4 separate regions of the Homo sapiens genome follow, and regions 1, 2 and 4 are each linked to region 3. The links come from fine-mapping of genetic effects on gene expression. A gene starts in region 3. Each other region holds a variant in brackets. All regions are shown on one strand. Distances are from middle to middle.

Region 1 (8,121 bases), 98 kb after region 3:
TCTTAATCAGTGATCCAGAAGAAAGGGTGCCCTGAGGATGTGTAAGGCCAGGGAGGGTCTCCTGGAGGAAGTGACTCAGGGTGAGATTAGAGTGATCAGTCAGCGCTAACCAGGTGGAGTGGAGAAAGAAGGGCAATGAGCATTCCAGACACACGGGACAGCCTGTGCAAAGGCCCTGTGGCGATAGGACGTGAGGGTCTTTAAGGAGCTGAGAGATAGCGTTTAAGGAGGGCAGTGCTTTCTTCCCTGATGGGACTGGAGGTGATGATGGTGCCTAATCCCTGCATCCCTGGCAGAGGGGAAGCTTGTGGGGCTTGCAGGAGCTGCCTCTCTGCCCCACACCCATCAGCCAGAGGAGAAAGGAAGTGAGCCTTTATTGGGTGCCTACTGTGCACTTTATGCATAGCATGCGTGGCCTCATTTATCCTTCCTACATTGGTAGGCAAGTATCACTCTCTCCCAACAGAGAAGAAACTGAGGCTCTGAGAGGCTAAGTGACATGCCCTAGATCACACATCTAGGACGTGGTAGAGTCAGGGTTAGAACCCAAGACTCCAAACCTTATATTTCCCCCACATCCCCTTTCACCAATGGTAGAAGATTAGGTCTCATGGACTGTGATGAACTCTAGCCTGCGATCCCCAGAAATCTGGAGTCTCAGATTCATCATGTAAGACCTTGGAGGACTCTTGGTCAGAGCCTCTGTTGGGTATGTTAACTCCTCTACACAACATATACTCCCTCCCCACCCCCATGGGCTCATCAACCCCTGCTTCCCTACCTTCAGGGATGATGTATTAGTCCGTTTTCATGCTGCTGATAAAGACATACCCGAGACTGGGTAATTTATAAAGAAAAAGAGGTTTAATGAACTCACAGTTCCACGTGGCTGGGGAGGCCTCACAATTATGGCAGAAGAAGAAAGGCACATCTTACATGGCAGCAGACAAGAGAGAATGGGAGCCAAGTGAAAGGGGAAACCCCTTATAAAACCATCAGATCTTGCGAGACTTATTCACTACCATGAGAACAGTATGAGGGAAACTGCCCCCATGATTCAATTATCTCCCACTGGGTCCCTCCCATAACACATGGGAATTATAGGAACTATAATTCAAGATGAGATTTGGGTGGGGACACAACCAAACCATACCAGATAGGGAGCTTATAACTTCCTGAGGAAGCCCCTTCTCTCTTTGGAAGAGCCAAGATTGTCATTTTTCTTGTTGGCTTCTTAGAAGGTTGTGTGTATGTGTGTGTCTGTGTGTGTGTGTATGTGTGTGTGTGTGTGTTTTCCTAAGCATTTGGGAAACATATTGAAAGGTGTCTTATTTTTAAGAGCATTTTGGAATCCAGGGCCCTCTAAGTGAGGACGTGAGGTCTAAGTAAACAGGCACTGGGCAGGCAGCAGGAATCCTTTGAGAAGACCATCCCTTGTCAACACTTGTATGTATAAACACTTTTTGGACCTTCAAAGACATTTTCCCCAGAGGATCATGGCCAAGGCACAGCCCCTCTCTTGAATAAGCAAAGTGTTAACTCTGAGAATGAAGGGGCAAATAAAAAAGGACACTTGTAAGCAGACCCTCCATTTGGGAGAACCTTAATTACAGGTTGTTAGTTGCAGTGGAAACCCAGGCTGGGTGGCCCTCCAGCTCATTGTCTTGCCCCTTTTCTCTCTCCCTGGGTGGGTCTCATGGGTCAGAGATTTGGCCCCACCCAACCCAGCAGCTATGGGAAGAACCACCTTCTCTGTGAACTCACACTCATTCAGCCGCTTAAACAATGTGTCACCCACCCCCACCCTCCACTCCCGAAGTCACTGCTGAAATACATGCAGCCAAGAGTACTTATTCATGGTTATAATCAGCCTGTTTTATAAAATCAGTGTCTAAAGACTTTGGTGAGTGAACACATTTGAGACTGGAGGCACAGGGTTAAGCGTTATCATCTGGAGGGGATACTTGGAGCAGGGGAATACATGAGTTGACTCAGAGAGGAGAGGTAGAGAGACAGAACTGCCCAGGTTAGAACCTCCCAGGAACATTTACATTTAACAGTGCTTCTTCATCACCATCATCACCCTCACCATCACTACCACCACCACCATCACTATCATCATCATCACCATCACCATCACCTCCATCACCATCATCACCATCACCATCATCATCTCTATCACTCACACTTACCATCACCATCACAGTCACCATGATCATCACCATTATCACCATTTCCATGATCATTATCACCATCATCACCACCTTACTCTCACCACCCCACCCCCACCCCACCACCATTAGCGTCATGATCATTATCGCATCACCACCATCATCAAGCATCACTGCCATCATTGCCATCACCTCCATCGCCATGGTCACTATCACTATCATCATCACGGGACTGTGGCTTTTGGTGCCCTGGAGGGTGAACCTTGGTTCTTTAGGGAGCCAGCAGATATATTCTATAATAATAGTACTAGTGCTATGATTACTAATATTAATAGTGATGAATGTCACTAACAGTTACTAATAGTGCTAGCACTATTATTATAAATAAGTATTAATAGTACTAATAGTAAGAACTGGTACATTTATCAATCAAGGTATATATATACCTTTGCTTTGAGCCCTCACCACAGCCCAGCAAATAGGGGTAGGTGTTTGATCCCCATTTTGCAGAGCAGATAACAGAGGATCCAATATTGATTTGCCCAAGGTCACATAGCTGTTGAGTAACAGAGTCTGGGTGGGGACCCAGTCTGCTAGGATCCTAAAAGCTGGGCTCGTCCTGCACTCTGCAGCATCTTGACCATGAGGGCCTCACTCTTCTGAGTGACCAGCTCTTGCCCCTGCACTCCTTGGCAGTCAGACATCCATGAAGCCACAACCTGGCCAGTCCCTCCAGAACTTAGGAAATGTTTTCTTGGCCACTTTCAGGGACATTGTAGCAGAGAAGTCCATTAGGCATTTGGACTTGTGAGACTAACCTTCATGTGATACTGATGGCAATAGTGATGGTGATGAAATTGATGATGAAATAAAAGGAGGAGGAGGAAGAGAGGGAGAAGAGGGAAGGAAAGAGGGAGGAAAAGAAGAGAGGGGCCAGGCGCGGTGGCTCACACCTATAATCCCAGCACTTTGGGAGGCCAAGGAGGGTGGATCACGAGGTCAGGATTCAAGACCAGCATGGCCAACATGGTGAAACCCCATCTCTACTAAAAATACAAAACAATTAGCTGGGCATGGTGGCAGGTGCCTGTAATCCCAGCTACCCGGGAGGCTGAGGGAGATAATTGATTGAACCTGGGAGGTGGAGGGTGCAGTGAGCTGAGATCACACCACTGAACTCCAGCCTGGGCGACAGAGCGAGACTCCATCTCAAAGGAAAAAAAAGAAAGAAAGAAAAGGAAGAGGGGGAGGAAAAAGAGGAAAGGGAAGAAAGACAAGAGGAGGAAGAAAGTGACGATGATAAATTTGATGCTGGTGATGATGGTGATGACGAAGATTTAGATGGTGAAATATTAAGGATGCATACTAATCATGACAGCAGCTGGTACATACTTACTATGTGCCAGGCTCTGCCTCATTGGATCCTCATGACAATTCTGTCATGTAGGTGCCATTATTGCCCCATCTGAAGATGAGAAACTAGAGATTCAGAGAAGTCAAGTGACCTTAGGATTCACAGCCAGCACTCTGCTACACCAGGCAAAGATATATGTCACAATGGCAGAGCCTGCAACTGTGTTTTCTATTCTTCCTTTCATGCCTTGAATGCTTTGGGAAAACTGCAGAAACCCTGTTTCTGTTAAAACTTACATTAGCCCTGTTTCACAGATGAGAACCTGGAGATGTGTACTGTCATACAGTCAGTTCAGTGCTACCACCGCTCCTGGCATCCTCCTCGCCCCCTGAACCTGCCCCCCACCACCAGAGCCCCCCAGCCCACTCACCTGTGCTGTGTTGGTTCCGCAGACTCGGCGGTGGCGAGGACTGGGCTCCCTCTTCCGGAGGGCGTGCTGTGTGGCGCTCCCACTGCAGCTGCTTCTGCTGCTGTTCCTCCTCCTGCTGTTCCTGCTCCCAATCAGGGAAGAGGACCGCAGCTGCACCCTGGCCAACAACTTCGCCCGCTCCTTCACGCTCATGCTGCGCTACAATGGCCCACCACCCACCTAACCCACTGGGGCACACAGGTGACTTTCTCCTCCAACCTCCATCAGTCCCAGGGCCCCTCCTGAGGATGCTCGCCAGGGAAACTGGAAACAGGGGCAGGGCAAAGACTGCAGAGCTGCATCCATATCAGTGCTGTGTCAGCGTTCCCAGAAGACACTTACTTTTTATACAGTGTTGTCTTAGTCTATTTATACTAAATGTGTACTACATGTGACTAGGGAATAATGTCTAGAATTTTTATATGATCTGTATGTAAATGCTCAGTATGTATAATTTCATATACGAGTTCTATTTGGAGTTGGGAAAATTCCTAGCAATGGCTCCCTCCAATGGGATTTTGTGGTATTGTTGACTTGGTCTGCAGTCAACCCTAGAAAGCAAGAACAATAACATGTCACTTTCATGGCAACCTCTTCTCCAAAGCGAATCCCAGAATTCAGATGTAATGAAAGGCCTCTGAGCTGCAACGTGGAAGAGCGCCATAGACCCTCACTTGGTGCCCAGCGACTCTTGCTTTATGCGTAATGAGAACAAGTATGCTTGTCTAGTTTTAACAACCACAAAGAGTAGCTGCCACGTGTCAGAAGTAGAAATGGCAATGACCAGAGGCAGGTTCAATGATAGCAGTGACAAGTGACAGAGTGATATCGAGGGAGAAAAAGAAGAGCTGCAGAGAGCAGATCCCCGAACTAAGAAAGCAC[A/G]GCTGTGTGGAGGCATTGCATGCCGGAGCCCTAACCCCAGCTCTCAGCGGCTTCTGATCACACAGACCTATGAGGACTGTCCCTGGTGATGACACCGAGCCCCCATGAAACGGTGAGATCCTGCTCTGTGTGTTTCATTCAGGGAGAAAGGGAAGAAGACAAGCTTGATTTTTAAGATTTCCATGCAGAATGGTGAGGCACACTCGGTGGGCAGCACCCACTGGCAGTGCCCAGGAAAGATGTGTTTCCTCTGTTGCTCCTGGACTGAGTTTTCATCGTCGAGAGCTCGAGCTGCAGGTGAGAAGGGAAGCATCTGCCACGCCAGGGGCCAGGGATCGAGGGTCCAGGACAGAGGTGAGAGAATCTGCTTTGGAGTTCAGCCTGTCTCAAGGGCTCTCCTTCCGCTTCCCAGAAAAGACTCTGGAGACAGCAGGTCTATGGGGCCAAGAAGGTCTCATGTGCATCCCCATATGGGACTAGGGCCCAGGCCACCCAAAACCAGGCCCTCTCCAGCCAGGTGTAGGCGAGCTGGGCTCCATGCACCACCTGGGCTGGGGCCGCGGTGACTCCATGTGAGTTCCCGAGGCCAGAAACTCATCCCTTCCTTGCCAGGGAACTCTGGGATGGTTCCTAAGTGCTCTACAACTGGATCATGTTTTTCCTAAATCAACACTAAATTTTCCCCTTTAAAAAAGTACTTAATGCCCACTCTCTACAAATGGATTTTGTCTGTTCAACTACAAATACGAGGGGATTTCCTCGGACCTTCTGTCCGGCTTTGGAATCATAAGGTATTATAGACCCAGAAAGGCCCTTTAAGTAGAGGGGAAACTGAGGACCTAAGAGGGCCTGATACCCAGCACCATTGCTGTCTCACACACACTGACCCTTTGCCTTTCACTGTGAGCTCTGCCCTTGGGGACCCGGGTCCTAGGCAACTAGGACATTTCACCGGCAGGAAACCCGTGCTGCCAAGGAGAGCCCTTGGGGCTGACTCAGAAAGCGTACTTTTTTTTTTCTTTTAACTCGTCTGTATTTGTTACAACTTTAAGCAGAATGTGACTTGGGCACTATATTTCCATCCACAAGCCTGGCTCTGAGTTATTATTATTATTGTTATTATAATTATTTTGAGATGGAGTTTCGCTCTTTTTGCCCAGGCTGGAGTGCAGTGGTGCGATCTCGGCTCACTGCAACCTCCGCCTCCCAGATTCAAGCGATTCTCCTGCTTCAGCCTCCCAAATAGCTGGGATTACAGGCATCTGCCACCATGCCCAGCTAATTTTTGTATTTTTAGTAGAGTTAGGGTTTTACCATGTTGGCCAGGCTGGTCTCGAACTCCTGACCTCAGGTGATCCGCCCACCTCAGCGTCCCAAAGCACTGGGATTACAGGCATGAGCCACCATGCCTGGCCATTTTTTTTTTTTTTTGAATAGCTTTATGATAAGCTGTAGGCTTATAATTATGCTCCTCCAAACAACACTTTTCTTTGGAAAACAAGCCCTGTAGACTCTCCATCCTTCCATCAAGTTCCTTCCCTCAAGCTGCTTCAGTTTAACTTATTTCTACAAGACTAGTACATGCAGAATTGGCAACTACAGGGGATGAAAAGTTCAAAAAGTAGATCCTACAACCCTGTGACTTGGTTTCCAAATATCTAGAGAAATTTGTGATTTCATGGAAGAAGAGAAAGCACACTTTTCTCCAGATATCTGGAAACCAAGCCATAGGGCCGTTCTCTGCAGGCGACCACCTTACTGGAAAATCAGGAGCTGAGTGAGCCCAGGCAGCCAAGCCCAGATGTCCAGTCCTGGAAGTCAGAGCAGTGGCAGGGTGGGTGGGTGGGGGGGCCTTGCCAGGTGTCCACTTTCCTATGTCACAGGTGAGAAAGCTGAGGCCCAGAATGGGGAAGAAACTGATCCATGGCCACACAGTGAGAGGCAGCAAGGCCAGAGCCCAACTGGCCACCATGGCCCTCAGGTGGTACCCTGCTCATTGTGGTATGATCCGCTCATGTCAGCAACTACATGAAAAAAACAGCCACTGGGCATGTATGCAGCCTGTCACATATACCACATGTTGGGGAAGGAGAAGCTGGAACATGCGGGCGGGGGTGGGAATATCTACCTATATTTTTTAAATTTTGATAATGATGCCATCAAGTCTGTTTGTTTGCATAACTGTTTTTTAAAAAAGAATTGATATTTTCAGTATTTTCATATAAATATACTTGTAATATAACGTAACAGCCCAGTTACTGGTGCTTCCAAGCACAAGTGCAATCTCCTTTGCTTAAAGGAGAGCCAGGCAATTATTCTTATGACTTTAGTTTCCAGCCTCTTTAACAGCCATGCAGAGCTTTAAGGTGCTACTTGAGAAAGGTGGCGCTGTGGCGTGTGTGTGTGTGTGTGTGTGTGTGTGTGTGTGTGTGTGTGTGTGTCAGAGAGAGAGAGAGGAGGGAAGGAGAGGAGGGAGAAAGGACCACCAGTGGGTCGGTTGATGAATTAGTTATCCCTGCTTACCTGTCCCTCCCACCCCTTTCTTTCTTAGCCCGTTCTCTGCATGTGGAAAGGCACATGCAGCACCCAGAGGGTGTTTAAAAAGAAAAGCTGGGAGCGGGAGGGATGGGCAGGTACTGACAGCAGACGAGGCGAGGAGACCCTGGGAGGTGCCCAGTGGTGGCGGGACAGAGGGAACACCGACAAGGGAGACAAAGAATGTGCTCGTTTGGTGCTCGTGGGTGCTTGAGCCCCTTGGGCGGCACTTTGCAGCCTTGCTTTATGTAATTCCCACATCGACACCTGCCCCCAGGGTTTGATACTGTTTTACCCCCATGTTTGAGATGGAACCCTGAGGCTTAAAGATATAAAGACCCTTGCTCATGCTGAAGTGGGTCCAAACCCACAACATGGGGCAATGAGGACCCCAAAGCCCAGGCTGGAGGGGGGCTTCAGGCTGGTTCTACCAGGTTGCAGTCTCTGTAGCCTCTGGGAATGGAGTTCCCTGGGCAAGCAGGCAGAACTCTCTGCCCATCAGCTCGCCTGGGACATGGCCAGAGCGGAGCATCCAAATGTTTCCCTGAGGGACTGCCCTCAGCTCTGAGATGAGTCACCACCAGCAGCACATTCCCTTGGGCCATCTATCATTATCTTCACATTGCTCACCTGGAAGATGAGCCCCTCTAATGTCTCATGATGAGGTCCTCGGTCATGAATGACAGAACTCCACACCCCCAATGCCCAGC
Region 2 (8,139 bases), 24 kb after region 3:
AGCCTGGCACAGGTGCTGGAGCCATGCAGGCCTGGCCTTGCTTCTGACTTGGTGCCTCAGTCACTGTCTGACGTGGGCAGGAGAGCCAGCTTCAGTTTCCCCATCTGTCAGGCAGCACGATGACCCCTGATTTGAAGGTTGATGGGGGCCTTCATGGTGTCTGCCCAGTGCCTGGCACACAGCAGGCCTCACCCATGGGAACTATTGCCATTGTGAGTAGCATTTGATAACATTTTACCCAACCAACAGGAGTCTCCTTTGGCACCCTAAGATCAAGACCCAGTGATAACCTTGACACCTACCAGGACAATCATAGGGTCGCAGATGAACCCAGAGCAGGAGACAGGGTAGCAGCAGGCAGGAGACTCCTTAACTGTCAAACAGCATTGTCCAAGGTGGGCCCGGCTGGGCATTTTGCTGGGAAAAGGACTGTAAGGACAGACTGGGCACAGACACTCTTGGAAGGAATGGAGGCTGCTCTCACAGTTCATTAGACATTGGCAAGCTTAATCAGTTCTTGAGAAAAGACCCTTCTATCTGAACCCATGGCCTTTTTTTTCTTTCTTTTCTTTTCTTTCTTTTTTTTTTTGAGACTGAGTCTCGCTCTGTTGCCCAGGCTGGAGTGCAATGGCATGATCTCGGCTCACTGCAACCTCCGCCTCCCAGGTTCAAGCGATTCTCCTGCCTCAGCTTCCTGAATAGCTGGGATTACAGGTGCCTGCCACCACGCCCAACTGATTTTTGTATTTTTAGTAGAGACGGGGTTTCACCATGCTGGCCAGGCTGGCTCGAACGCCTGACCTCAGGCGATCCACACACCTCAGCCTCCCAAAGTGCTGGGATTACAGGCATGAGCCACGGCGCCCAGCACCCATGGCCTTTTTTTTGAAGAGCAGGTTTACAATAAATAGGATGCCTTAGGGTTAAACGGCACCTTACAAGGCATTTCCTAGCATGTGACTTAAGGTGCCCTGTTGCAAGGGCCCTGCTTGGTCCAGTGTGGTTTTCACACCATTGAGCAGATGCTGCCCTGACTGCTTGTGGGTCCTGTCACTGAGTAGGCTGTGCCACTCTCTTGCTCACAAACCCTCACTGGCTCCCTATTGCCCACAGAGTAAAACCCACACAACCCTTTGGAATCCTGTGCTGTTCAGTCCCCTCAGCCTGCTCTCCAGTATGGCCTCCTCCCGTCTCTCTTTGTTAACAATTGCCAAACCCATCCTGCAGCCTGAACTTGGCCTTGCACTTCCCCATCTCCCAGCTTTTGGTCTCGCCAGTCCATCCACTCGTTATGCCCTTTCCCACTTCTCATCTTATTCAGACCCTGCTCATCCTTCACATCCCAGCCAGGGTATCCCTTCCTCTATGAGCCTCTCCTGGAATCTTCATAAGAATCATTGCTCCTTTCTCTAGGCTCTGTGCCTCTGCATTTAACACCCATAGCACTCTCATTTAGAGCTTGTGATCTGGAGAACCCGAGCTTGAAACCTATAGGCCCTAGTGGCACCGCGCCAGGCACATCTGGATGTGGAAGTCAAATGGTCTTTTTTTTTTCTTTTTTTTAAGAGTCAGGGGTCTCACTTTGTTGCCCAGGCTGGCTTCAAACTCCTTCTACCTCAGCCTCCTGAGTAGCTGGGATTGCAGGCAGGCACCACCACACCTGGCTAAATGGTGTTAGATTTGAATTCTCGCCTCCCAGCTACTATCTCTGGAATCTTGGGCAGGCCATGAAACTGCTCAGCTTCAGTATTCTCATCTATAAAACAGGAATGAATATTAAGACCTACCTTTCAAGTATAAAATTAAAAAAAAATTATCTCAACAAATGCTATTGAATTGGATTGAGTAGCTTTCACAGGGGGAGTTTATTCCTCACCGGAATTCCAAACACCAAATGATGGGCTGTTGGGTTGAGAACCCTGGCGCTCAAGGCTATTTGTATGCCCCTGAGGGCATCACTCAGCTTTATTTTCCTCTAAGGCTGTCCGTGGCGGCTGGCTTCCCACAGCGATGCAGCCACTGGTGGCCACCCCTCTTCTCCCAGGCAGGCATTTTGCCCATCCCATGGGGCTGCATTCAGCATCTCTTTTGGGAGGCAGAGTTTTTTTCTGTTTGTTCTGTTGTTTGATTCAAAAATTTCATGTCATTTATATAAGGTCTATAAGACCCATAGGGATGCTGAAATGGTGTCAGGCTCTCAGAAGCAGTCTGGCTCAGCAGCTGGGACAGCTGCAGCTCCGGAGTTCAATACACCTAGGTTCAAATTCCAGCTCTGCCTCCTGGGCAAAACCAGTTCTGAAATTTTATACTCAAGTTATCTCACCTCTCTGAGCCTCAGTTTCCTTATCTCTGATACGGGGATGATTATACCAACCATTAAAGTTGTCTTAAAAAGCAAGTGCATTAATAAATGCTTGGAGAGGGAGGGGCATATTGACTAGCACCTAATACCTGCTCAGTAAATGGAACGTACTGTTCTCCATTTGGAAAAAAAGGTCTCAAGCAGCTTCTTAGCTTCCTTTACATTGGCACCCCATTTATAAGGTACAGGTTTTAGCTTCCTGGAAGGAAAAACTTCCTTTGAGCCTGAGCTATGTAACAACAGAATAGGCTGCCTGAAGAAGGCAGTGAGCCACCCATCACTGAAGGTGTTCAAGAATCTTGGCAGCCTTTGGTGGGTGTATTTTTAAGGAAATTCAAGCAGAGATGGTTGATTAGATTAGGTCAGTTTTAATGGCCCTCCTAGTTTTGGGATGCTGATGTTTTAAAAAACAGCTTTATTGAGATATAATTCATATAATATACAATTCACCCATTTAAAGTGTACAATTCAGTGCTTTAAAAAAAAATAGAGCCAGGTTCTTACTGTGTTGGCCAGGGTGGTCTCAAACTCCTGGCCTCAAGCAGTCCTCCCACCTCGGCCTCCCAAAGTGTAGGGATTACAGGCATGAGCCACCTCGCCTACCCTCAATGCCTCTTAGTATATTCACAGAGCTGTACAGCCGTCACCACAATCATTTTTAGAATATTCTTACTACCTCCAACAGAACCCCTGCACTCCTTCACAGTCAACTCCCAACCCTCCCACCTCCCTAGCCCTAGGAAACCACTAATCTACTTTCTGCCTCTGTAAATTTGCCTGTTCTACACATTTCACATCAATGAAATCATACAATACATGGGACCTTTGTGACTGGCTTCTTTCATTTAGCACAACGTTTCCAAGGTTTCTCTATATTGTGGCATATGTCAGCACTTCATTCTTTTTCACAGGTGAATAATATTCCATTGTATGGATAGACCACGATTTCCTTATCCATTTATCAGTTGATGGACATTTGGGTTGCTCCCACTTTTTTTGGCTATCATGAACATTTGTGCACAAGTTTTTGTGTGGACATATGTTTTCATTTCTCTTGAGTATATATGTAAGAGTAGAATTGCTGGATCTGATGGAAGCTCTATGTTTAATATTTGAAGAACTACCAGGCTGTTTTCCAAAGTCACTGCACCATTTTCTGTTTCTACCAGCAGCATATAAGGGTTCCAACTTCCCTACATCTTCACCAACACTGGTTATTATCTTCCTTTGATTATAGCTATTCTAATGGGTGTGAATTAGTATCCCATTTTGGTTTTAATTTGCATTTCCCTGATGGCTAGTGATGTTGAGAATCTTTTCTGTGCTTTCTGGGCTTCTCAGTGTGCTCATTGGCCATCTTAGATGTAGGTATGATTTAAAGAAATGTCTATTCAAATCATTTGCCTATTTTATAATTGGGTTGTCTGTTTATTATTGAGTTTTAAGAGTTCTTTGGATTTTCTAGATGTAAGTCCCTTATCGGATATGTGATTTGCAAAAATTTTGTTCCATTCTGTGGGACATCTTTTCACTTTCTTGATGGTGTCACTTTTTTTTTTTTTTTTAACATTTTTGCCTTTGAAGTACAAAAGTTTTAATTTTGATGATGCCTAATTTATCTATTTTTTTATTTTGTTGCTGTGCCTTTGCTATCACATCTAAGAAACCATTGCGTATTCCAAGGTCAGGAAGATTGATGCGTATGTTTTCTTCTTCAGAGTTTTGTAGCTTTGGCTCTTACGTGTAGGTCTTTGATCTATTTGGAGTTAATTTTAGTATACGGTGTGATGTAAGAGTCTAATCTCATTCTTTTTCATGTGGATATCCAGTTGTCCCATCACCACTGTTGAAAAGATTATCCTTTTCCATTGAATTGTCTTGGCACCCTTGTTGAAAATTAACTGTCTGTAAATACAAGGGTTGATTGTTTCTTTCTCTGTGAGTCATTTTGAAGAAATAGAATGATCCTTCTCAGAGGCAC[A/C]AGATAGGTCTTGGCCATCACTCTACACTGAGCTGCTGCCAGATCTTGGGCGGGTCTACTTCCTTCACTAAGTCTCCTCATCCATAAAACGGCACAGCTAGATAAGAGAATTCCGAAGGACAAGTCCAACTGTCACATGTTACCTGCAGGGAGGTTTCCACAGAATCTTTCATTGGCTCACTGGAATGTCCTGTCATCCCGTGAGGCTTACCCCGCAACCCGAGATCTAGAGCCAGCCTAAAATCTGGGGGCAGTTCCAGCAACTCCCTACCCTGACCTGGCCCCAAGAACAGCCAGTCCTGCCTTTCCAAGAAGTTGATGTTGTGTGTATTTATTGAATAAGCAGCACTGCCCTCCTCCTCTGTGCCAGCTGTGTCCCAGGCCTGAGGATACAGAGGGGATGAGACATAGCCTCTGCCCTTGAGCGGGACATTCTAATGGGAAGGTAGACATATCAACGGATGATGCAGAGCTGAGTGGGGCATGCTGGCTGGTACTGCGTGCCACAGCCTGCAGGTGTGAGAAGGTGGATGGCAATGCATGGCTTTGCCGATAGGGCCACAGGCCTGGCCCATGTGGTGAACACTTGCCCTGGGCCATATCTGAAGAGTGTCAGGTTGAGCTGTGGAGTCAGGCCACCATGGGGAACTCTTCATAGCTCTTTCACCCACCAACCAGCAGCAGCTCTTACTTGACTTACACCTTTGGCTCTGCAGCCAGCCTCAGCATGCTGACCAGGGGCTTGCTGGACACTTGTCTACAAGCTCAGTATAGTTCAGGGTAACAGGAAGCCTCTGCAGCTGGCCTGCCTGAAGTTCAATCTTGGCTCTGCATGCTTTTGGGAAAGTTATTTAATATCTCTGTGCCTTGTTTCCTATCTGTAATAAAGGGCTGGCCATGGCATCTACCTGATAGGATGTTTGCTTCTGAAGCCCTGTATGGTGCTGTAGAAAATAGCTGGGCACAGAGCTAGCTCCTGCCAAGGTCTCCAGCTGTTACAGGTTGGAATTATAGCTTGGAACAATATAGCATTTACTCCAGACTGCTGTGCATGCCATAATCGGTTATAGCCCATGGCTATTATGCGTTATAACATGGAAATATGGTATAATTAGCCTTTAGCTTGCCAGAACAAGAGATGACGGTGATAGTCCTTTACATTGGGATAGGGCAGGGCCTCTCAGCAGCGTGTATTTCCCTTACTAACTGATTCCGTTAGAAAAAGCCCCAAGGTGAATCGGACGTTGCCTTGTCCTTCACAACAACCTTCCAACTTAAAGCTCACTCGTCTCAGAGTGGGTGGAAGTCAGGTGTGAACTATTGCTCCACTCTGACCATTGAGGAAACTGGGGTTTGGGAGCAAGTTGGCGGTGGAGCCCACGCTGGAACCATGACTCCTAACCCCATTCCAGAGCCTGTTCTGCCCCCACTCGTGGCCTGAAGGAAGCCTCTTATTTTGGGGTTACAGAGTCTGTGCTGAGGCCCACTCTTGCCTCTGATTCCTGCCTTTCTCAGTTCCCCTGAGCCAGCAGCATGTGAAATCAAGGACTAATGAGGGCAGAGAGATGTCCATCCTGGCTCCACACTTCTTTCTTTTCAAAAAAAAATAAGCCAGGCATGGTGGCTCGTGACTGTAGTCCCAGCTACTTGGGAGGCTGAGGCAGAAATCTTGGGCCTAGAAAGTTTGAGACCAGCCTGGGCAACATAGCAAGACCCTGTCTCTAAAAATAATCAAATAAAAGAACACTTTCTGAGTACCTACTAAGCACCAACCGAGGTAGGTATTGTAGTTTATATTTTCCAGATGTATCTTTCATTCACAAATGTGTGTGAGCACTTACTGTGTGTCAGTAAGTGCCACGTGTTGTGATCAAAATAGGCAAGGGCTGTGCCCAGAGGCAGTTTATGTTCAAATGAGAACAAAAGGCTCAGAGTTCAGAGGAGTTGGACTGGATTCAGGTCCCTGAACTCAAAAGTTGTTGATTTTCAATCCTTATTCCAGGAGAACCCCTGGCAGCTGCATGAGTTGTTCAGAAATTCCAGGCCCTACACAGGAATCTGTCTGGGACCTGTAGGAGATGGGAGAGAGGCCCCATGGATGTGCTGCTGGGGAGCTCAGAAAGCCCCATGCACCTGTGGGTGACTCCATTTGTCTTCTGCTTTTACTGGCTTTGGCTGTTGCTTCATGGTGCTTGGTTCTGTCCTCAGAGAGTTGCCTGCAGGGAGTTGGCTGGCAGCACCCTGAGAATTGGAGCAGGTCCCTGTTGGCCAAGTGTCTTTGTCACTCAGTCACTCAGCTGCTCACCCCCTTAGCCATCAGCCAGCAGGCCCGGTGCTCAGCACACCAAGGAGCTTTCAAGGAGGAGATCCCTGGGAAGTGCTCAGCACAGAGTCTGGGAGCTCAGTTAGGCCGTCCTACACCACAAATGCCAAAACCAGTGAGAAATGCAAGCCACAGTGAGCCAGCATGACATGCTACCAGAAGGGCTAAGATGAAAAGACTGACCGTACAGTGTTGTCAAGGCCGTGCAGGAATTGGAATTCACACATGGCTGCTGGGTATGTAAAGAGGTGCAGCCACTTTGGAAAACAGTTTTGCAGTCCCTCCTCTCCTCTCCTCTCCTCTCCTCTCCTCTCCTCTCCTCTCCTCTCCTCTCCTCCCTTCCCCTTCCCTCCCCACCCCACCCCTCTTTTATGAAACAGGATCTCCATGTGTTGCCCAGGCTCATCTCAAACTCCTGGGCTCAAGTGATCCTCTCACCTTGGCCTCCCAGAGTGCTGGGATCACAGGTGTGAGCCACCACGCCTGGCCTTGGCAGTTTCTTAAATATACACCTACCATGTGATCCAGCCATTCCACTCCTAGGTATTTACACAAGAGAAATGAAAGCATATGTGCACACACAAGTATTCATCACAGCTTTGTTGGAAACTATCCATCCGTGGGTGCATGAATCCACAATCTGTGGCACAGGAATGCTATGGAATAGTACTCAGTAACAAAAAGGAACAAACCACTGATACAGGCAACGACATGGATGAATCTCAAAATAACCATCCTGAGTGAAAAAATCAGACCCCTCTCTCTAAAAAGAGTACAGTTGACCCTTGCACATTGCAGGGGTTAGGGGTACCAGGCCCTTGCACACTTGAAAATTTAAGTCTAACTTTTGAATCCCCCAAAACTTAACTGCTAATAGCTACTGTTGACTGGAAGCCTTACTGATAACATAAAGTTGATTAATACATACTTTGTATGTTGTATATATTACATACTATATTCTTACAATAAAGTAAGCTAGAGAAAAGAAAATGATATTAAGAAAATCATAAGAAAGAGAAAATGTATTTACTGTTTATGAAGTGGAAGTGGGTCATCATAAAGTTCTTCATCCTTATCGTCCTGATGTTGAGTAGGCTGAGGAGGAGGAGGAGGAGGAAGAGGAGGGGTTGGTCTTGCTGTCTCGAGGGTGGCAGGGGCAGAAGACATCTGTGTATGAGGGGACCCACACAGTTCAAATCTGTGTTGTTCAGGGGTCACCTGTATTTTCTGTGTCATCCCATTCCATTCATGTACAAAACTCTAGGAAATGCAAACAAATCTACAACGACAGTCAGCAGATCAGTGGTGGCTGGGAGAGGGTGTAGGTGGGAGGTGGGAATTACAAAACCAGCCAGGGAGCTTAAAGGGGAGGCGGGTATGTTCATTTTATGGACGGGTGTTGGCTTTATAGGTGTATATCTAAAACTTATCAAACTGTGCAGCTGAAATATGTGAAGTGTCTTATTTACCAAT
Region 3 (8,139 bases):
AGATGGGTTTTCATGTCCACCCCCTTATGTAGCTGCAGGTAATGCTGAAGACGAAGGTATTGTGGACTTCCTAGTTGTAAACTGCCCCATCCCTTCGCATTGCTTACTCAACTTTTGTTTTCCTTCCATGTGGACTACTTTGGAGAGAAAAAGATTGGCATCAAATAAAAAATAGGGTTCTGTTTTTGATGTGATGTTTATGTCAGGCTTAAGAAAAGTAATGGATGGCCGGGCATGGTGGCTCACACCTGTAATTCCAGCACTTTGGGAGGCCAAGCAGGCAGATATCTTGAGGTCAGGAGTTCGAGACCAGCCTGGCCAACATGGTGAAATGCTGTCGCTACTAAAAATACAAAAAATTAGCTGGGTGTGGTGGTGTGTGCCTGTAGACCCAGCTATTCAAGTGGCCGAGGCACAAGAGTTGCTTGAATCTGAGAGGAGGTTGCAGTGAGTCAAGATTGCACCACTGCACTCCAACCTGGGTGACAGAGCGAGACTCTAAGAAAAGCAATGGAATGGGAGAGTATTCTGAAAAGCAGCAAGCCCTGTAAAGCCCAAGATAATAACAATCACATTGATAATAACAAAACTATCTGCACAGTATTTTGTACTTTATAAAATATGTTTATCACATGTGTTTTCACCTATGAAAAATTATTGCTATCCCCATCTAACAGATGAGAAAAACCAATGTTGTAAGAGGTCACATTCAGTGTAAGATTAGACTGTATGTGCACACTGTATGTGTAACAGAATCTTACAGTGTAAGATTCACTCAGCTAAATAAGTAGCAAAGCTGGGCCTGGAAAGTGAATATCTCCACTGCTCTGAACTGGTGCTCTGCACTGCACCGGCAGCAGGAGGGACAGTTCATCTCTGTGCACCATGGTCCCCTGACACAGAATTATTACACCCTGACCTCCTTGGAGGTAGTAGTCTATGCCTCATTCTTCTTCATATTCCCAGAGACTAGCACATAGTAGATACTCAGGAATGTTTGACGAAAGACTGAATAGCTGTATGGCAGAAACTGTAGCAATCATACCATTCCCAGAACCATAACATAACAGCTCGCCTGAGTTGGGTGCTCAAATACCAGGCACAAAACCATACAAGATAAGCTCCTATTATTAGATCTATTCAACAGAAAAGGAAACCAAGTATGAGTAATCAGCTGAAAGTTGCAAATTGGGCACTTTGGCACTAGAGCCTGAGCTCCTAACTGTACCCAACCATCTCTTCCTGCAGGACATTGAGTTACAGTGGCCAGCTCCACCCTTGGAGCAGCCTGGGGGAGCCATCTCTCTCCTTGTGCAAGTCACCTGCCCTCTTTGTGTCTTGGTTTCCCTTGTCAGGCAAAACTCATTAAACTTTTCCTAACTACCTGGAGGATGTTTGCAGAGATTTAATGAGGAGACACATTTGAAAGCATTCTGAAAAGCAAAAAGCGCGATCCAGATGCAGGCATTATAATCATTGTTACTCGCTGCCTGCACCTGCAGTTTGACTGTGGCAACCTCAAGGCCTTCGGCAGCACTTCTAATTGAGCCACAGTGATAATAACACATATAATAGCATACTTGGAACCAGTCAGTCGCAGGGAGATGGGAGGGGCCCTGTGTATATCTTCAGCAACGCTGTGAATAATTACAGCTTAATAAATGGGATCTAACTAAGAGGTGTGGGTCTACCTCAGAGTGAATCCTGGGTTTTGGCTAATTCTTCTACCTCCCTCTCAATTTGGAAAAGACATACACACACACACACACACACACACACACACACACACACCGTTAACTATCTTGTCCTGCTTTACAATTTAATCTCTTAGGATACTGACTTTTACACGGATCTGTTCTACAAACATCTGCCATCCCTGCTAAGAAACAAAAAAGGAAAACAGCATCCCGGAAGCCCTGGATTTGGGCCAGTTACTAACCCCGCATCTGTAAAATCGCTAGCCGCACCTAAACTGTGATGACTGGAGTTCACATAAAACCTAGTTTTACAACTTGTATCCTTCATTAGTAGCGCTCATCTGATCCAGAGGCGGTGAAGCCAATCATGCAACCATGTAATTACTCGGAAAAAGATAAGGGTTGGGGCCCAGGACTGTTCAAAGCTGGGCTGGATGCACAGGAAGGCCAGTGACTGCTGACCTGGGAGGAGAGCGCCAGGGTGCGAAGGCTTCCAGCCATCAAGCAGTAGGAGTTTGGCAGAAGGCTGTGGAGCAAACGCCGGGCCAAGGCAACTTCATGTGCACAGGCACAGAGGCAGATACAGTTTAGACATTCTGGGACAAGGTTAAAGGGTTGGCGTGGCTGGAGCAGGGGTTGGGAGAGTGGGAGGATGTTTCTGCTGGTGGGGAGGGAGAGGTGAGGCGCATTCTGAGGCCTTGGGTTTGTTGGGGGTTCACATTATGCCTGGGGATTCACATCCCTTGTGACTCCTGGACTGTGGGCCCGGACTGTGGGGGTGGGAGAGGACGGGCAGGGTGCCACTACCCCCCACCCCGCCCTTTCTCCCCGCGCGAGGCTGGCTGATGAGTGTCATTTTCTTCTTGGATTTCGCGCCTACGGGCGGTGTGCCCCTTCCAAGGCCCCCACCTCCGCTCTGTGAGGGCAAGATCTGCCGGTGTCCTAATCCCTTTTCCATGTCTGGGCGCACAGATCCAACTTTCCCGGAGAGGCAGCTCCGCGCCATCCCCTAGGATGAGAAGAGGGTGGGTGGCTGTGTGTGTGTCGGGGAGACAGACAGGGGCCAGGGCTCCGGGCTGCTTTCCAGGCAAGCGTGGACAGGACCCCCCCCTTAACCCCCGCCCCGGGTCCGCGACAGGGAGCGGTGAGGCTTTTCTTCGGCCCTGGTCCCCGGGGCCACGCAGGATGTCCGCCGGGCTGGGGTTGCGCACCCGGGGCCTCCGCTGAGCGCGTGCGGAGAGGGGCGCGGCCTCTCCCGCGGGGCCACCGGGCGGGTCCCGGCGGGGGCGGGGGTACTCGCGGTGTCCGGGCCCGCCCCAGCCCTGCCCCGCCCCGGAGCCGCCCGGGACGCAGGGAGGAGGGAAGGAGGCTCGGCCCCAGCTACCCGCGGCGCCGCGCTCCTCCACGCTCCGGGAGGGTAAGTGGCACGGGGCCGGGAGGCCAGGCCTGGGGCCGGGGGCCGGGGGCCGGGGGCCGGGCGGGTGGGGTCCTCAGCCCCTGGCCCAGCTCTGACACAGCCCCGGGAATCGGGGGCGCCGAAAGTCTGGGGGACCTGGGGAGGCGCGCCCGGCGCGGGGGCGGGGGCCCCGGCGTGACAGCTGCGGGCGGGCGGGTATTTTTAGTTTAAATCCAACCGTTCTGTGCTGGCTGCGAAATTCCCGAGCCTTTCCTTTCAACCCCGGGGAGCTTCGGCCGGCCCACAAGAAAAAGCCCTAAAGCCCCGGGCAGCGCGCCCCAGCGGGCCGGGTGCCTCCTCGGGGCTTCCCTCTGCCTCCCCTAGGGGCGGGCTGACCTGTCACCAAGGCTTGCGCGCGGCGGGGGCCCAATCCGCTCCTGGCGACCGCGAGCGCGCTCAGTAGTGCCTGGGAGAGCAGAGCAGGCGGCGAAGAGGGGAAGTCCAACCCCGAATGCTCAGTTTCGTTCAGACGCCTTTTGGCTATGCAAACTTGGCAAGCAGCTCAACCTCTCTGAGCCTCATTCCCACATTTCTAAAGGGGAGGGCAGTGAGGCCAGAGATGGCTTGCAGGGCCTGAGAGAGCCTCAGATGGATGTTGACTTCCCCTGGGGTCTTGGGATCTTGACCCCAAACAGCAGACCCATTGATGTGGCCCATTGGTCAACCCGGGAGCAGTGTCCTACACCGCCCAGCTGACCTCTGCTTCAAAACTGGAAGCCAGGGGCCTCCAGCCTGGGCGGGGTGATAATGAATATTTTCAGTTAACCACTTTGGCCCTGAAGCTCCAACCCTGGGCTTTCCTGGGACTCTCCCAGGTTCCTGGTCACCCCTTTCAACTCTGAAGGGTCACCCTTATCCCTGCACTGGGTGGGGGGGCTTTCTACAGCCAAGGGCTGCTAGTGGGATAGCTTGATGTGTCTTGGGGGCATGCCCCATCCCACATGAATGAGGGCATGAGGAGAATGGACCGTCCTCCCAGAAAGGAGAGCATGTCATAAAATCACTGCCATTCTGAGCTTGGCAGGACAGCGTCCTTCATCCACCAAGAGAAGCAGAAACAGGCCCAGAGAGGGGGAGTGATTTGCCCAGAGCCACACTGCCTGGCTCTCTTGAAGGGCCTGGGCTTGCCGCCTGCACTTCCAGGGCAGCCAACAGCCCATAGGAGTCAGGAGCTGGGAGGTGGGAGGGGCATATCAGTGCCAACGAGCTGTTTTGCTCAGTTTCCTGTCACTGTGCCCCAGCGGGATGCTCCAGCACATGTGGGTCTGCACATTCCTCAGGCCGGACGGTGCTCGGCAGGCTGACAGCCACAGCTGTGCCAAGCCTGCTGGCCCCAGGCGTTGTTTTCAACCAGAGAGGCCCCTCTGGGGGTGGCTGAGCGGGAAGTGGGCTGGGATGTCTTATTTCTGGAACTCGTGTCTTGCTGGGGGTCCTGAGAAGAAGGCCTGAGGATGTGTTGGTGGCACAGAGGGAAGTGGTGAGAATCCAGGCTCAGGTTTCTGCCTCCAGGTACAGTCTGGCACCTGGCTCCCTGCAGGTACACTTCAGAGTGAGTTGGAGTCCTTTCTGTCTGTCTCCATGGGAACAAGGCTCCTGCTCGGGTGCTTTGCATGCTCTCCAGCAGCCATGGACCTGGCCATGCCTGGGCAGCCCCTTTGCCTTGTGATGCAGCCTGGAGCGGGCTGCCGGGGGGCCCTGGCTTGGCGGCCCCGGGAGGCAAGACTGGGCAGGCCCAGCTCAACGTCAAAAGCACCCTGGAGCCTTTGGGAACCCACTGGGCAGCTAGGCTTCCCGCATTGTCCAGCTGTTAGGAATGGGGCAGTCAAGTTGGATTGCCTGAGTCCAGTCCTGCCTTAGCCCGTTCCTGGCTGTGTAGCCTTGGGAAAGTTGCTTCACCTTTCAGAGCTTCAGCGTCCTTCCCCGTGGAAAGGGGCTAACCATAGCACGGCAGGTGTTGCCTCGCAGGGCCTCATGAGCACTAAACGAGCTTTGCCCTGATCAGCATTTTGTATGGTGTCAGACACAGCACATGTGAGAAGGTGTCACAGTTTGAGGCGAAGGGGCCTCGTCGGGATACCTGGGTTCCCCTCTGCTCTGCCTCTGCCCCTCTTCTCCCTGCCTTGATTTCCCCTTGTCTGTCAATGGTGGGTAGTCCTGGCTCACCCCCCTCATGGTCCTCCCAGCACTGAAAGCTGGCCCTTGGCCCCAGGGAGGGCAGGAGGCTCTTGACCCCAAACAGCTGACCCATTGATGTGGCCCATTGGTCAACCCAGGAGCAGTGTCCTACACCGCCTAGCTGACCTCTGCTTCAAAACTGGAAGCCAGGGGACTCCAGCCTGGGCGGGGTGATAATGAATATTTTCAGTTAACCACTTTGGCCCTGAAGCTCCAACCCTGGGCTGCCCTGGGACTCTTTCCCAGGTTCCTGGTCACCCCTTTCAACTCTGAAGGGTTCTAGAGAAGCCTACAGAGGGACTCAAATGTGTTCGTGGGGTCTTCCAAAGCTCTTCCTGCCTCTCACCTCCTAGGATCTGGTAGTAGGCAAGGCTGTCATTGCTTGCCCATTTACAGATGAGAAGGCTGATATCCAGCGGCTGGATGTGGTACAGCCAGGATTAGAACTAAGGGCTTTTGACCTGATGCTCTTCCTGGCACCACATGGCCTATCTTAGACAATCCAAGGACAAAGTTGTACGTTCATCACTGGGAAAACAGTACTGACCGGACAGGATGCTTGTCTTCATTAAGTCATCAGTACTTGCTGGAAAAGAATATGGATTCTGAATATATATATATATATATATATATATATATATATAATCTAAGCAGCCTGACTGGACCACAAAGATAGGAACCCAGGAGCAGCAGTGTTTCCTGACCCTCCCATCCTGAAAGGAACCTTTGCTTTAGGACTTAGGGATGATGTTCTGGGGCTGAGCAGCTAGGAAGCTAGGAAGTGGACGGGGGACAAGTTTGGGAAGCTGATGCCCTAATTTTGACCTCTTGAAATACTTCCCTTTTGGGGTTGCTGCGAAGATAATTGAGGTAACTGGGGATGATGCTTTAGCAGAATGCCCGGCATGGTGCGGGCACACCATAAATAGGACTGATGGTTTTTATTATTACTAACCCTCTACTATCATTGTAACACCAGAGTGCAGCCTGGATCTCTCGCCTGGGTTTCTAGGCTGCAGACGTGGTATAGAGAATCCTAGCATCTCCATGGAGAACTGCTAAGGCAATTATAAAAGCTCAAAACACAACCAAACTAAGCAATGAGTTGTTTAGTGACACATAGCTGAGAAGTAAAATGACGACAAAAAGCAAGAAGGTGATTAGCTTAAATAAAAGCCAAGCATTACCACGCGTGCTGAGGAAAGGTGAGAGAGGATCAGGAGAGTCGGGGGGGCAGTTACAAAGGAGATCACTTTGTAGTTACTGGCTAATTACATGTATGTTTTATACATGCCTTTATACGTAGATTCTATTTCACAAAGTTAAGCTGGTTTAAAAAAGAAAAAGGCAAGGGAATGATAATGCAAAATCAAGGTGATTATCTTTGGGGAGAAGTGGGTAATTGATCAGGGAGATGTCTGTTTCACTCTCAGTGGGATCCATTATGTTCTGTTTCTTCAGTCCAGTGGTAGGCTTGTGAGTGTTATTTTTTATTTATTTTATGTATGTATTTATTTATTTTTTGAGACAGAGTCTTGCTCTGTCACCCAGGCTGGAGTGCAGTGGCCTGATCTCGGATCACTGCAAGCTCCACCTGCCGGGTTTACGCCATTCTCCTGCCTCAGCCTCCCGAGTAGCTGGGACTACAGGCGCCCACCACCACGTCCGGCTAATTTTTTGTATTTTTTTTTTTAGTAGAGACGGGGTTTCATCGTGTTAGCCAGGATGGTCTTGATCTCCTGACCTCGTGATCTGCCCACCTCAGCCTCCCAAAGTGCTAGGATTACAGGCATGAGCCACCGTGCCCAGCCTATTTATTTATTTTTTTGAGACAGAGTCTCACTCTGTTGCCCAGGCTGGAGTGCAGTGGCACAATCTCAGCTCACAGCAACCTCCACCTCCCAGGTTCAAGCCATTGTTCTGCCTCAGCCTCCTGAGTAGCTGGGATTACAGGCATGTGCCACCATGCCTGGCTAAGGGCGTTATTTTTAAATATTTTTATGCTTCATTATTTACAAATAGGAGGCGCATATATTCCATTATATATATATAATCTTACATAATACAAATGAAATTAAAAGATCATGTGGAGCATTTTCAGATGCTTTCTTAGAAAATCTGCCTCTCTCCTCAGATTCCAATGTTAATCTGGCTGGATTTAAAAAATAAAGCAAAAAATTCTGTTGTATGACACATGATTTTATGTGTCATAAATCTTTATGTAGGAGACACGATCTTTAATGTAGGAGACATGATCTCTGTCTTCCCAAATCATACAACAAGTAAGATAATAATAACACTCTATGACCTCAGATGATCAACAGGATTTTTAAAGGTCCTGGCCTAATGATTTATGCTTCTGAATCATAAAATCCTGAAATATTTGAGCTGGAAGGAACCTCAGGTCACCTGGACCAATCTACTGGTTTTATAACAAAACGAAGTGTCCTGGCCGAGGTCACACACGTAGGGAATACACTTCTCTCCAGGCTGCCACAGCTGTGTGACTCTCATGCAGACACCACCCGACAGACAGACCAGTGAGAGTCTTGGGTCACAAGGCTCCTCCTTAGGGCACTCAGGGAGAGAGACGGGAAGTATACCTGAGATTAAACTGATAGGATCATTTTATTTATTTTATTTAATTTATTTATTTATTTATTTTTTGAGAAGGAGTCTTGCTCTGTCTCCCAGGCTGGAGTGCAGTGGTGTGATCTCAGCTCACCGTAACCTCTGCCTCCCGGGTTCAAGCAGTTCTCCTGCCCCAGCCTCCTGAGTAGCTGGGACTACAGTTGCATGCCACCATGCCCA
Region 4 (8,000 bases), 79 kb after region 3:
CCTAAAAGTAAGATAGGCTTTAAACCAGATTTGATCTTCCAAGGGTAAATTCCTTGTGCTGTGTGGAGGGAAGGGCCAGCCCAGCCTCTTGTGGTGCTACTTGGTGGGGAGCCCTGGGGTCCCCAGCGGGTGTGAGAGCCCTGCAGGGTGGGGGTGGTGCGGGGGTCTCCCCCTCGGCCAGCACTCAGGATGCCCTGGGCTCCCCGGGCTGTGCTGCAGGACCTTGTGGACAGGTGTCGGCAGAGTGTGCAGGAGCACTGCACCTTCAGCCACCAGCTGCTGGAGCTGCGGCAGTGGATCGTTGTGACCACGCAAAAGCTGGAGGCACACCGGGGAGAGGCGGGCCCGGGGGATGCCGAGTCCCAAGAGGCCGAGTTTGAGGTAAGGCGGTGGTTCCCTCACCCACTTCCCAAAGAAGCAGCCTTGACAGGCCAACGTTCCCACACCAAGGAGCAGAAACCTCCCTCCACCCTCACCGTGTGTGTGTCTGTGTGTCCGTGTGTCCTTTAGAGGCTGGTGGCAGAATTCCCGGAGAAGGAGGCCCAGCTGTCCCTGGTGGAAGCGCAGGGCTGGCTGGTGATGGAGAAGTCTTCTCCGGAGGGTGCTGCCGTGGTGCAGGAGGAGCTCAGGGAGCTGGCAGAGTCGTGGCGGGCCTTGAGGCTGCTGGAAGAAAGTCTGCTGAGGTGAGAGTGCCTCCTAGGCTCTGAGCGTTGTCTGGGACACTGCCCCTTCTCACTCAGGGACACTCAGGTGCTCGTGGAGCAGAGGGCCAGGGTGCTGCCCAGTGTGGAGCCAGGGGCCGTGGGCACCTTCACACTTTGGCCCAGTTGGCTATTCTAGCAGGAGCAGGAGGAGCCAGGAAATGTCCCCGTCTTGGGAGTTAGCCTCCAGTCTATACTGGCTTGAGCCTCAGTTTCCCCATCTGCATCTATGGGCGTACGCACGTTCATGACAGGTTACTCTGAGTTTAAAGTCAGAAACCGGATGTGAGCATGCCTCAGGAACATTCTCACAAACTTCAGTGGGGGGCACTGACTCGTGACCCGTGGTTCCCCAATTCTATTACTTTTCCCATGTCCTGGTGGGTCCCCACCACATCTCTGCATTGACTGGGCTGAGTTTGTCTTCTCAGCCTCATCAGAAACTGGCATCTGCAGAGGATGGAAGTGGATTCGGGGAAGAAAATGGTTTTCACCAACAACATCCCAAAGTCAGGATTTCTCATCAATCCCATGGATCCTATTCCCAGGCATCGTCGACGCGTGAGTCTGTCTAGCAGGGCTGTGGGAGAAGGGGCCAGGCCCCAGGTCAAGAGGTGGGTAGGGGTCTCCAGCACAGGCCCCTCCCTGTCTGGGGCAACATGCTCTGCTCTGAGGACTTGGCCACGTCCTGTCTCATTTGAGCCTGCCCCAGCTGTGGCCAAAGAGCATTTGATCCTACTCCACAGAGGACCTCAGAGATCCCAGAGTCTGCAGAGCCAGGCCACCAGGGCAGTAGGGGTATCCCTTAGCCAGTCAGATACTCACCTCTGTGAGCCACTAGCAGCAGCTCCTGCAGGGAAGAGAGTGTCGGGGCTGAAAGCTTCCTGCTGGCCCCAGATTGGAAACCGAAACCATACAAGATGGGAAAACTTTTCTGCCATGTTTCATCCATCCCTTACTGCCTCTAAACAAACTTGAGCTTTGTGGAAAAGAAAGTTATTCCTTGTTATTCAAATACATCAAATTATTCATTTTCCCATTCATTCTTTCATCCACTCCTCCATTTGCTGAGTGCTACTTTGTTCCAAGAACTGTGCTCAGAGCTAGGATACAGCCGTGAGTAACGCTTCTGACCCTCAGAGAATTTGGAATCCGGCATAGAGCTTTTCAGTGGGCACACAGCCTTGTATTAAAATGCAGGTTCTGGGCTGGGTATGGTGAGCTACACCTACAATCTCAGAACTTTGGGAGGCTGGGAGGCCAAGGCAGGAGGATTGCTTGAGGTCAGGAGTTTGAGACAAGCCTGGGCAAGATAGCAAGACCCCATTTCTATAAAAAATATTTAAAAATTAACTGGACATGGTGGTGTGCTCCTGTAGTTCCAGCTACTCAGGGGCCTGAGGTGGGAGGATCACTTGAGCCCAGGAGTTTGAGGCTGCAGGGAGCTGTGATTGTGCCACTGCACTCCAGCCTGGTGACAAAGCAAGACCCCATTTCAATCAATCAATCAATCAACAAAAAATAATGAAATAAGATAAAATGCAGACTCTGAGTTAGTAGATCTGGCTAGGGCCCACAATTCGATTCTGCATTTCTAACAAGCTCTCGGGATAGGCCCATGCTGCTGGGCCCGGGAGATACTCACCTCTGTGAGCCACTAGCAGTAGCACCTGCAAGGGAGAGAGCATCGGGGCCGAACACTTCCTGCTGGCCCCAGAATGGAAACTAAAATCATACAAGATGGGTCTATTTTTGTGCCATGACTATATTTTATAAAAGAAAAAAAAAAGAACTAACTACATTGTTTTACCCATCACTTTCCCTTACTGCCTTTAAACAAACTGAGCTTTGTTGAAAAGAAAGAAGCAAGGGAGTGGCATCCACAGGCTGTTAAATAAGGATTTACAAAAAACAAAAAACAAACAAACAAAAAAAACATGGTGCACCTTGGCAGACAGGCCAGAGGCTATGGGAGCCTGCAGCAGTTCCTAGGTCCAGGACCGGGAAGCCTCTCCTGGAAGATAAGACATCTCAGCTGAATTTTCACGGCTGAGTGGCAGTGAGGAGAGGAGGGAGAGAGGTGTGTTCCCCACAGAGGAGACAGTATGTGTGAAGAGCAGAGGGAGAAATTCGAGTGCCAGTTTGAGGGGCCAAGACACATCTGCAGGCCCAGGCTCAGAGGACAGGGAAGACAGCATGCGCAGTGGAACCAAGACTCCCGGGTCACACTGGGGAGTAGTGAGAGGCACCAATGTGGATAACCAAGAAGTTAGCTGAATGGGCTTGCATCATAGACAGAGCACTCCGGTCATGGAGCCCCGAGGGGGCAAGCATGGTGGAAGGGTGA[C/G]TATTTGTATAGCCATCCTGGTAAGAGATGGTGGTGGCTTCCGTCACCTCTCAGGGGACCAGAAAGGGGACAGTGAGGAATGTTCTTGGCCCTTAAATGTGACCATGTTGAGTAGAGATTCATTGTTCATCCCCCAGGCCTCTCCCGTCGCCATTTTGGGCATCTTGTCCTGGTCCCTGCCCCTCTGCCTCAGGTGGAATTCCCAGGACACATGGCCAGGGGGGCTCTTTCACCTCTGACGCTTTGGCCGTGTGTGATCCTACAGGCAAATCTTCTACAGGAAGAAGAAGGGAGCCATGAAGATTTCTCCCAGCTCCTGAGGAACTTTGGGCAGTGGTTGCAGGTGGAAAACTCCAAGCTGGTTAGAATCATCGCAATGAGAACTTCTACAGCTGAGGACTTGAGGACCAGAAAATCGAAGCTGCAGGTCTGTTCCCCAGGAAAGGTCCCTCATCCATAAGGTTTGCACCCACAGAGGCATTTGCCACCAGGGAGTTCTTCAAAAGAAGGAACACACCCACAGTTTGTGAGCTGTTCTCCCTTGTGTATAGATAATCGCTTTTAAACTTTTTTGGTTCAAAGATTTTAGAACTTTTTCTGGCATTCATTCGTGTGTTCAGCATGCTTATGTAGTTCCCTACTTGGAAAATATCACCACTAATCACTTGACTCCTGTCACTTAGCTATTGCTGTGTGACACACCATCCCAACAGTTTGTGGCTGATAACAATAACTATGTATTTAACCCATGGTTCAGAAGCATGGCAGGTTAGGCTGAACTCAACCGGGCAGTGCCTCCAGTCCGTCTGCTGTCAGTTGTAGGTCAGTTGGGTGTCTCTACTTCTAGGGGCTGGTGGGCTATTAGAGATGAGAATGACATGGACTACACATCTCGTATACTCCTGTGGCACAGCTTGGACTTCTCATAGCAGAGGCAGGGCAGAAAAGAGCAATAGCAGCAGGCAAGGACTTTTGAGGTCAAGACTAGGAGCCAGCATAACATTAATTCCCCTGCATTCTGTTTGCCAAAACCAGCCTAGAGTCAAGGAAAGGGAAAGAGACTCCACTACTTGATGGAAGGGATGGCAAAGTCATATTGCAGTGGGTATGGATATGGCTGGGGGGAGGGAGATGGGGAAAGTCACAGCCATTTTTGCAACTGAACTACTACTTCTCTCCTGTCTTCTTCACTCCCACATCTAATCAGTTGCTAAAGCTCCTTGATTCCACCTCCTAGATATTTTGTGTTTCTCTTCCCTCGCACTACCATTGTCTTAATTTAGGCACTTACCATTTTTGGCCTTGACTATGGCTGTAGCCTCCCAGCTGATCCTCCTTTCTTCCTGTTGGGTCCCATCTAGGTCATGGCTCATCCTGCAGCCAGAATAACAAATATGACCCTGTCCTCCCCCTAATGAAAACCTTTCACTATAGAGTTTAACCCCTGAGTTTATTATTCAAGGCCATTCTCAACCAGGCCCTAGCTCACTTCTGTTTCCCTATTTTTATGCAATCTTACCATGATATGTTTAGGTTTGAATTTCTTTTTATTTATCTGGGTTGGGATTCATTTTAACTCCCGAATCTGTGGTCTAGGATCTTTCTGGAAAACTCTCTAACCTTATTTTTTTTTCTCTTAATTCCCAAACTTGTTACTTGTATTTTTTTCTACTAACAATCTTTCTTAAAATATCACCTCTGCCTTGTTCCCTTTCTCCTCTCCTACTGTGATATCATTTAAACATATGTAACTACTTCTCACTGTGTGCTTTATGTCTCTTACTCTCTCCTGTGTATTTTTCATCCTTTTCTCTCTTCGTTTTGCATTCTGGATAGTTTTTCTGATTCATCTTTCAGTTTACTAATTCTCTCTTTAGCTGTGTTTCATCTTCTGTTACACGTGTCTACTGAGTTCTTAACTTTGGTTGTTGCAGTTATCAGTTCTAGAACTTCTATTTGGTGCTTTTAATAATCTACTCTATCATTTTTCTTATCTTTTTTTTTTCTTATTTTATAGCTCCTGTCTTAACTGAAACTCTATCATTTTTCATACCTTCCAGATACTTGCTGAAATTTTTAAACCTATCTTTTAATTATTTGAACATAGTAAACATAGCTTTTTACAGATTGTATCTAATAATTCTAACATCTCAAGGCATTTTATGAATGTTTCTGTTGTATATTATTTCTGCCTGTTCTTACTCTTGGTTTCTTGTGTCTTCATGTGGCTGCTTTGTGTGCTAGACATTGTGTTTGCCAAAATATGTATAAGAGGGATTTAAGATTTAGGATAGGCAGGGCACGGTGGCTCACGCCTGTAATCCCCGCACTTTGGGAGGCTGAGGCGGGTGGATCACCTGAGGTCAGGAGTTCGAGACCAGCCTCAACATGGAGAAACCACGTTTCTACTGAAAATACAAAATTAGCTGGGCATGGTGGTGCATGCCTGTAATCCCAGCTATTCGGGAGGCTAAGGCAGGAGAATTGCTTGAACCTGGGAGGCAGAGGTTGCGGTGAGCCGAGATCGCGCCATTGCACTCCAGCCTGGGCAACAAGAGCGAAACTCTGTCTCAAAAAGAAAAAAAAGATTTAGGATAATCTTTTCCTCCAGAGTTGATTTTATTTGCTACTGCCAGGCGAGTAGGGACCTTTCATTCTGGGACCACTAAATCCAAGTTCAAGGCTTGAGTTTCCCTGGTCTACTAAGATGACTTTGAACTGGGCTGCAAGTCTACACAAGGTCCAGGTTTACTTCTGGTTCATTTTTAATAGGGTGAAGGCTTTAGGAGCTCAGCAAAAGGGTGAATGAACCCTATCAGAATCTCTACCTCTGCAGGCCCCAGACTTTGGCCTTTGTCTCCCCAGCCCAGTGAGGCTGCCAAAAGCAAAGATGTTTTACAGCTATTCCTTCCAAATTGGCAAATGTTCTGTGGGCAAAAGCAGATCTGAACACAGCACTGACTGCCCTGGGTTTTCATTCTTTCCCAAGTTGTGGCCCGGTGTGCCTCACATTCTTTTGTTAATACTTTTATGCCTTTAAAATGCTTTAAATATTTTGTCCTTAGTGGGAGGTTTGGTCCCAATTATCTAGTTGGCCATTACCTGGAAATCTTCCTTGCCTGCCTCTCCTGTCTCATATCTGGCTACTCCTCTCATTCCCCCCACCGCACCACCACCCAACTCCAGCCATATCAGAAATGACTTTCCGTTCCTCAAGTTAAACCCCCTTGCTTTTTGTACAGCATACATTCCTGTGGGCTCTGAGAAGCTAAGCAAGGTGTCCCATATTACATGCTAGTAGAATGGGGCAGAGCCAGGATCCAAAGCCAGGATTTAAAACTGGGCTCCCGGATTTATAGCCCCGCTCCTACTGCCCCATCACACCACCTCTCAGGAGTCCTGAGAATAAAAGTTTCCATCCCAAGGGAACACAGTACTTCTATTTCCTGAGAAAAATCTGCACATTAAAACACCATTCTGCCAGGCTCAAAATGCTAACAGAAAGACATGTTCACAATGACAGCTTTTAGAATGATGCGAACTCTAGTCAAGCCCTCTGGAGGACTTGGTCCTGGAATGTCATATTTGGAAGTGACCACTGGAGGTCTGCAGCCCAGCTGCCCGTTCCATGCAGGAGGCCATCCTGTAGCATTCCTGAGAGCAAGGGCTAGGCCTTGGCTTGAATTGCACAGATGGGAGTCCCACTTTATGGATTCTGTCTGCCTCCTCCCTGCCTACCTGTCTGTCAAGTGAAATTTGATGGACCCATCCTTACCATTCAGGTGGGGCTGTCTGGGCCATTTGGAAGCCGCACCATGACGCTGCTGTTTCCCCCAGGAGCTGGAGGCTCGGGTGCCAGAAGGTCAGCATCTCTTTGAGAACCTCCTTCGTCTCGGGCCAGCAAGGGGGACCTCGGATGAGCTGGAAGATCTGCGCTACCAGTGGATGCTGTACAAGTCCAAGCTGAAGGACTCTGGCCACCTGCTGGTAGGTGCCAAGGATGTGCAGGTCCCAGATTCCAGGGACAGGACTATAGCTGGGCCGTATTTGCCTGGGGATACAGTGCTAAGCCTGCATCCACCCTGCCCTGTGCATTCACACACCAGACAGTGGTGACCACTCAGGCAGAGGACAGGGACACTCATGGGTTCTGGGCACTTAGGTGACGCCATTTGGCCATCCAACCACCTCATGAGGCTGAAGTCCCAGTCAGGACAGCAGTGACCTCATAATTAATGTGTAAGGAGTGCTTCCTATCTCCCAAGCCGAGGGCCCTGTGTGCACCGTCCCATTCAGTCTGTACGGTTCCCCTCTGCTCAAGTCATTGTATCTCCAGACTGCAGAGGGGAGCTGAGACTCCAAGCAGTGAAAAACCTTGCCCGAGGCCGCGTGGGTGGTCAGTGGCAGAGCCAGCCTGCAGACACACCCGTGTGTTGTAGGCGTGACCTGGGGAAGCACTGGAGTGGCATCAGGAGCCCTGGGGTCCAGCCCCATGTCTCTAACTTGCCCTGTGTCTTAGTTGAGCAAGCACCTTCCTTTTCGGGGGCCCCTGTGTCTCCTCACACCAAATAATAATAATAATAATAATAATAATAATAATAATAATAATAATAGCAAAACTAGTAATGATCATAACCTTTGCTCAATGCTATGTCCTTATAACAGCCCTTTAAAGGAGGTGCTGTTATATGCCCTGTGAACCAATGAGGAAACTGAGGCACGGACATTAAGTTTCCTAGGTCCCTAAGTCTGAGGAGGGTGGTGAGCTGGCCCTTAAGGGCCCTTTCAGCCTCAGACCCCAGCCCCAAGCTGGGCGCCCCAGGCTTTCCTGGCCCGGGAGCAGCCGAGACGGCCACTAGGTGTCAGCCCAGCCCAAGCCAGGTTGGCCATGGCCCCCGCCGGCCTTGGCCACGGCCTTTCCAGACAGAATCCCAGCTGGGCCTGAAGTGTGT

What was found.
Region 1: its variant is fine-mapped to the expression of SYNE3 in whole blood (TOPMed, PIP above 0.99).
Region 2: its variant is fine-mapped to the expression of SYNE3 in cerebellar hemisphere (GTEx, PIP above 0.99).
Region 4: its variant is fine-mapped to the expression of SYNE3 in whole blood (TOPMed, PIP above 0.99).

The regions. Positions count from the first base shown.
Region 1 is chr14:95,413,883-95,422,003 of GRCh38, reverse strand. SYNE3 (spectrin repeat containing nuclear envelope family member 3) reads left to right here. Exons shown (of 18, transcript NM_152592.6): 18 at 3,978-8,121. The coding sequence ends at 4,178. Among named protein-coding and RNA genes, the nearest start is that of LINC02292, 88 kb to the right of the region's middle. The variant A/G (reference allele first, on the strand shown) is at 4,877.
Region 2 is chr14:95,487,562-95,495,700 of GRCh38, reverse strand. All of the region lies in intron 1 of SYNE3 (spectrin repeat containing nuclear envelope family member 3), which reads left to right. Among named protein-coding and RNA genes, the nearest start is that of SYNE3-AS1, 24 kb to the left of the region's middle. RefSeq lists enhancers at 1-75, 1-465. The variant A/C (reference allele first, on the strand shown) is at 4,344.
Region 3 is chr14:95,511,571-95,519,709 of GRCh38, reverse strand. SYNE3 (spectrin repeat containing nuclear envelope family member 3) reads left to right here and starts at 3,060. Exons shown (of 18, transcript NM_152592.6): 1 at 3,060-3,114. It overlaps SYNE3-AS1 (SYNE3 antisense RNA 1), which reads right to left and starts at 3,590. Exons shown (of 2, transcript NR_188030.1): 1 at 3,490-3,590; 2 at 1,799-2,706. RefSeq lists an enhancer at 1,231-1,380 and silencers at 2,805-3,614, 3,364-3,658.
Region 4 is chr14:95,432,295-95,440,294 of GRCh38, reverse strand. SYNE3 (spectrin repeat containing nuclear envelope family member 3) reads left to right here. Exons shown (of 18, transcript NM_152592.6): 12 at 220-381; 13 at 511-683; 14 at 1,133-1,262; 15 at 3,314-3,475; 16 at 6,886-7,035. Among named protein-coding and RNA genes, the nearest start is that of SYNE3-AS1, 80 kb to the left of the region's middle. RefSeq lists an enhancer at 539-1,738. The variant C/G (reference allele first, on the strand shown) is at 3,049.